Linked DNA regions of Homo sapiens. The protein of the gene in region 1 purifies or fractionates together with the protein of each later gene. This does not show direct contact. Each region holds a gene or a part of one and is shown on either strand. Other genes may lie near its edges.

The links.
Region 2: the proteins of ZNF175 (region 1) and SNX16 purify together in Homo sapiens (affinity purification with mass spectrometry; one large-scale study listed by BioGRID and IntAct). This does not show direct contact.

Annotation. Positions count from the first base shown.
Region 1 is NC_000019.10:51,588,283-51,590,646, reverse strand, and holds part of ZNF175 (zinc finger protein 175), read right to left. Parts: coding exon 2,180-2,364; 3' UTR 1-2,179.
Region 2 is NC_000008.11:81,839,386-81,843,560, reverse strand, and holds the start of SNX16 (sorting nexin-16), read left to right. Parts: upstream 1-1,375; 5' UTR 1,376-1,439; exon of another isoform or gene 1,440-2,023; intron 2,024-3,117; exon of another isoform or gene 3,118-3,363; intron 3,364-3,478; 5' UTR 3,479-3,574; coding exon 3,575-3,949; intron 3,950-4,175. UniProt on the Homo sapiens protein: May be involved in several stages of intracellular trafficking. Plays a role in protein transport from early to late endosomes. Plays a role in protein transport to the lysosome. Promotes degradation of EGFR after EGF signaling.

The DNA of each region.
Region 1 (2,364 bases):
ATTTGCTCTCCAGGGCCCAGCACAGGCTCCTGCATGTGCAGTCACCTTGTTTTAGACACAGCCTGAGGTCTGTGCTGGTTCCTGACCAGCTGTGTGGGCCCCTATCAACCTTGAAGGGGTATGGAGACTAAAGCCATGGGTGCCCATCTCTAACACCCTTCTGGAAAAGACTTCCAGCTGACAGAAATCTCCCACCACAGTCCCACACCCAGCACAAGGGAACCAGGCAGGCTCAGGGATACGAGGCCCGCTAAAATTCATCAGCACTTGGTCTGTCCATGCAGTTCCAAGGGTTTAACACACACACACTTCTCACACCAAATGCATGGGGGTAGGGTACTATCATCATCTCCCTTTTGTAGATGAGAAAACCAGAATAGATGAGACCAAATAACTTGCTCAGCAGATGCAGAGGGTAGAGAGTGGAGCCAGGAATCAAATGCAGGAACCTGGCTCCTGGGCCTGTGCACTTAAAAGATTATGCTGGTCTGCTTCTCGGAAGTATTGATAACAGTTCCCTCTCCGTTTTTTAGCAAAAAATGTGTGTGGGGAGGAAATAAGTAATCAAAACTGTGGGAATGGCTAAATAAATTATGGCAGGTCAACCTCATAGAATACACGTGTGTACAATCCATCATGGATTGTAGAATGAAAAAAATACCATCCACACACGTAAGAGATCTGAGTTTTATAAATCAATGAAAGAGTACTTACACAGGTATATGATGATGAACATAGTAATATGTGTGTATGTGTGTGTGTTTGTGTGTGTATCATGTGCTGGCAAACATTTTCTGTAAAGAGCCAGAGAGTAGATATTTTCAGTTTCCAGCTTGGGGGCTATTTGATCTCCGCCAAAACTACTCAATTCTGCCAGTGCAGCACAAAAGAAGCCCAGACAATACATGTCCAAATGAACATGGCTGTGTTCCAATAAAACTTTATTTTAAAAAAACAGTTGGGAGGCCATATTTGGCCAATGGCCACAGTTTGTTGACTCCTGGTGTAAAAATATGAACGAGACTAATGGTTGGCACTAATTATGGAGAGGCTCACTATAGATGGTGGAGATGGAAAGGGGGGGCAAGCTGAGCTAATCCTAAAAGAAGAGAAAATCTGTAATATAAAGATCAGTAAACATTATAGAATCTCATTTATGCATTTACCAAAAATGCACATTCATGTGTATGTATAATAAAGGAGTTAATCATTGTTGATACAACCTCATTATATAAATATTCAATAGGGAATAATTTTTATAAAAACAATTAGATTAGATTCTCTTAAAAAATAACTCATCTGCTTACATCTCCTGCTATGCAGTGAATTCTGCAGCAAACCCCACTGCACTGAGGGCATACATACATACATACATACGCATACATACACATATGCTGACCAGACCATATACATATGTCTGCATATGCATATATATACATACATAGATACAGAAATATACGTACATACAGGTTGGGTATTCCTAATCTGAAAACCCAAAATCTGAAACTTTTTGAACTCTAACATGACGCTCAAAGGAAATGCTAATTGGAGCATTTAATCTTGGATTTTCAGATTAGGGATGCTCAACCAATAAATATAATGCAAATATTCCAAAATCTGTAAGTATCTGAAATCCAAAATGCTTCTGATCCCAGGCATTTTGGAGAAGGGATACTCAACCTGTATATAATAATATGCTTATATATTATATATATGCTTATATACATAAGGCGCACACACACACATAAAATATTGTCCTATCATGACTGTGTTGGCACTTTAAAAATATTGATATCCCACAATAAACAGGGTTATCATTGATATAATTTCCCACATATTTTACTATAAATAATCGAGTAACAACCTGTCTTGTACCATTCTTTACAGAAAGGCTTTTCTCAATGCGTTAGTCAGGGTTTCTTCCCGGGGAGAAAATTTATAATCCTTAATGAGGCCAGTACTCAGAAGGACATTTCTGCTTACTCTTTTCTCTGTAATTGCCCTCACTAAAATAAAGCATGACTTTTTTATCATGTGTTCACACATGCAGTGCATCCCTAGAGTTTTTCTGAAGCATGAATTCAATAACATATAATTAGACCTGATTCTGAGAAGATTTTCTCTTCTTCAAGAAACTCGGAGTATATTTCATTTATGAATATGCTGATGCACTAGGAATTCATTGCTTGGTAAAGCCTTTCACAGAATAACTGCATTTGTAAGATTTGTCTCTGGTATGAGTTGTTTGGTGTTTATTGAAGTTTGACCTGTTGTTGAAGGCCTTTCCACATTCAGAACACACATAAGGTCTTTCTCCCGTGTGAATTCGCTGATGCACCTTGAGTTGTGGTTTCTTACTGAACG
Region 2 (4,175 bases), on another chromosome or scaffold:
AGGAGTACAACTTTGTAACTTAACTTTAGCCTCTGATTGGTTGCAGGCTACTCCTTAATTTACAGAGGGTGTAAACCAAGTAACCAATGGGAAATCTCTAGCGGATATTTAAACTCCAGAAAATCCTGTAACCAGGGCTCTTGAGCCACTGGCTGGAGGCCATTCCCACTCTGTGGAGTGTACAGTCATTTCAATCTCTGCTTTCCTTGCTTCATTCTTTCCTTGCTTTCTTTGTGCGTTTTGTCCAATTCTTTGTTAAAAAAACCAAGAACCTGGATGACTTGTAGTCAAGACCCTCCATGGGTAACATTGGGACTATACAAAAGCCTTAGAAATCGTGGAATGATTTTTCAACCACATTATCTGATTCTAATGATGAACAGACCTGTAGACCGGTCTGAATCTTGGGATTTGCCTATCAAAAAACTCGGCTTTCCCTACTGCACAGGTCTTCAGAAGCGCATGTCTAACAAGGCTAATATTCCATCATCGGGATCAAATTGCTCACCGGATAGTAAAAAGACACTACAGAATTTCAGGGGTTCTCTGCCAATGAGAACTTCTGAATTATGTAGAACGGATCAGCTACTAAGCAGTGTTCTATCTTCCTACTCTTCTAATCGATTGTCATCCCTTAAAGCGCTGCTAATTCTAGAAAACAATCTATAACCTGTTAGAATCAGCGCAAGCTGGTGATGACTACAAGTCCCATGATGCAAAGTATGAGCACGGACCAATGTTGGTCGCAGTTCCTTCTGGGAATTGTAGTCTTCTCCTGTTTGGCAAACTAGGTATTGTAGCCTCCATTTCTCAGAAGTTCAGTTGGAAAACTAAAGATAGTGCAGAGAATGTCGATTTCCTGCCACAAGATTACATTTATCTTCGCTACCTGAGCGCCCAGCCGATCAACTCCAGTCGCTCCTCCGGTGGGCGGGCGCCCATGCCGTGACATCACTTCCGGCAGAGATGTGTGTGTGACGCTCTCTCTCTCTCTCTCTCGCTCTCGCTCTCTCCCTCGCTCGTTTTCTTTCTCTTTCTCTCTCTCTCTCTCTCTCTCTCTCTCTCTCTCTCTCTCTCTCTCTCTCTCTCTCTGTCTCTCGCTCTTGCCCTCTCTCTCTCTCTTTCTCTCTGTCTCTGTCTCTCTCTCTCTCTCTCTCTCTCTCTCTCTCTCTCTCTCCCTCCCTCCCTCCCTCCCTCCCTCTCTCTCTCTCTCTCTCCCCCCCCCCCCCCCCCCGCCCAGTTCGGCCCCTCCTTCCACACAGCAGGGATCTTGGGCCCGGGCAGAGACTGGCTGAGGCGGGGAGCAGCTGCTTTTGGGGCGGGGGTGTCACGTGAGGCTTCTCGCTGCTGAGGGAGGAGGCGAAAAGCTGCGGTTAAGGAGAGTCCGGTTTAACCGTCACCGGGAAGCGCGCTCGTTCGGGATCGCCGAGGGGGCTGAGGTAAAGACTGGGTCATTACCTCAGGACAGGCGGTCGCTGTCCCGGGTTCTCGTACGGGTGACACCTGCAACCTTGATGTCTGGCGGGCGGCAAGGGGCTCCGCGGGAGAGTGGAGAGGCGCCGCAGGAAGCCCAGCCACCTTCAGGCCACCGCCGACCCCACTGTGCGTCTGGGAGGCGCTGGGCGCGCACCGGTCAGCGGAGGCGGGAGAGTCTGTGATCCCAGGGAGCTGCGGGTCTCGCCGCCTGCAGTGCGGAAGACCCGTGACCGGCGCAGACCCCGGCCTTACCTTCCGAGGGTCGAACTGTGCCTGGTATTTGCCTCTTTCCTCCCGCCCACGGGGTTGCTCAGAGTCGGGCCACCTCACCTGAGGTTTTCCAGAGTGAGAATGAACTGAGCGTCCTGGGAGCAACTCCGCATCAGGGTAGAGGCGAAGACGCTCCTAATGAGCACAGCACGTTTTTTTGTTTGTTTGTTTGCTTGTTTTGTTTTTTTAACGCTTGGGTAGCGCTCACATCTTCGGACGTCAGTGGTTGTGTTGATATGTATTGATATGCGACCTCCCCCCAGCCAGGCGGCCTCAGGTAGTAGAGTGGCAAAGGCCAGGTAGATCCCTCGGACCTTGAGAAGGTTGAGATTTCAGACTTACTTGTTTTTGGGGAGGCCGTCAGGCGGAACCGAGGAGCGGTGAATCAGCAGCTAAAGTTTCATGAATCTTTGATAATGGGGAAATGTTGCCGAGAGCCACTTGAGTTAAAAATCTTTTTTTTTTTTTTTTTTGAGACGGAGTTTTCCTCTTGTAGCCCAGGCTGGAGTGCAATGGCACGATCTCGGCAAACTGCAACCTCCGCCTCCCGGGTTCAAGCGATTCTCCTGCCTCAGCCTCCCAAGTAGCTGGGATTATAGGCCTGCGCCACCATGCCCGGCTAATTTTTGTATTTTTAGTAGAGACGGGGTTTCACCATGTTGGCCAGGCTAGCCTCGAACTCCTGACCTCAGGCGATCCACCCGCTTCATCCTCCCAAAGTGCTGGGATTACAGGCGTGAGCCACAGCGCCCAGCCCAGAGTTAAAAATCTTATTTCAGCATCTTTCCAAGTCCAGGTGACTCATTTCTTACCTTTCCCACCAGTAGAGTTTCGTATGAAAAGTTGGGCAGTTATTGTTGTGTGTAGTCTTGTCATTTTGTTGGTCTGTAGTTGTTACAGTTTCTTATGAGTTTATTATTTAACAAAGTAATAGTAAACCATTTCTTCTTTGTGTTATGATACTATTCTGACACAAGATATACTGGTCCGTTTGATAACAGATTCTTGAGTGTAAGTTATAAAGATTTAAATACCCTCAGTTTATCGTAGAGCAGAATTAGTGATGACCTGTAAGCTGTGAAGAACGGTTACAATTTTCACTATTTAATTTTGTTGCATATAAGTTCAGTGTTCACTGGGTTTTATTTGAGTAACTTGACCAAGTGTGTATTTTTAATCCTGGGTTCTATAGAATTATACTATGTAGCATCAAAGCATCTGGTTCATTGTTACTACTCTGTGTAAATCTTTATAGTTTCACTAATTAAATTGAAAGGTAATGTGAATAGATTTCCTCCCTTTCTGATTAAATCCAGAGGTAATGTAAATAGTTTTCTTCCTTTTCTTTTTTCTCTCTTGTACTGAATGTAGTACTGTCAAGATGATAAGCATGGAATAAAGCTTCAGAAGGGTCTTTACCAATCTTTCTCCTACCAACTTTTACATACATGAAATCAGGTTAAAATGAACTTTACAGAAATACTTCACAAGGGAATAAAGTAGAGGAAAAAGGGATAACATGTAACATGGAGTCAAGGAAAAAGAGTGTGAAGTAGTTTTGCTCTCTCTATCTTGCAAATAGGAGTCCTTAAAGACAACTGGGAGAAGGGGTTTGAGGTATGTTTTCATTCCAAATAAAATAATAGTGTCATAAAATTGAAAAGAATACTTTTCTTTTGAATCCTGCTGCACATTAAAGACTAACCTTTTAATATGTCCTTTTCATTTTTAGATAGTGAATTCCTAAGAAGAAAATAATGGATTGCATATTAGTTGTTCTCTAAGTGGACTCAACAGTGTGCAAGCTTGTTGGAAAAGCCAAAAGAAGATGGCAACTCCTTATGTCCCAGTTCCTATGCCCATAGGAAACTCTGCTTCCAGTTTTACAACAAACAGAAATCAAAGAAGTTCTTCTTTTGGCAGTGTCTCAACAAGCTCAAATTCTTCTAAGGGCCAGTTAGAAGACTCAAATATGGGTAATTTTAAACAGACAAGTGTTCCTGATCAAATGGATAATACTTCATCTGTCTGTAGCAGTCCCCTCATTAGGACTAAATTTACAGGTACAGCTTCTTCCATTGAGTATTCTACTAGACCAAGAGACACTGAAGAACAAAATCCGGAAACAGTGAATTGGGAAGATAGACCATCTACACCTACTATACTGGGTTATGAAGTGATGGAAGAAAGAGCTAAATTTACTGTAAGTATTGACTTCTGCTGTATAACACTACAAAGTGAAAGATTGGCTAATCTCTGTGTTCAAACCAGTGTTAAATTAATGTAAACTTGTACTTATAATTTCTTGAATATGAAATTCTAATGGTTTTTACACCACTGAATTCTATCATGTTGTAGTAAACTTTTGCTTTACCTTAATAAATTTTCACAAACCAGACACACCTATGTAACTATTAATAGCACATAAA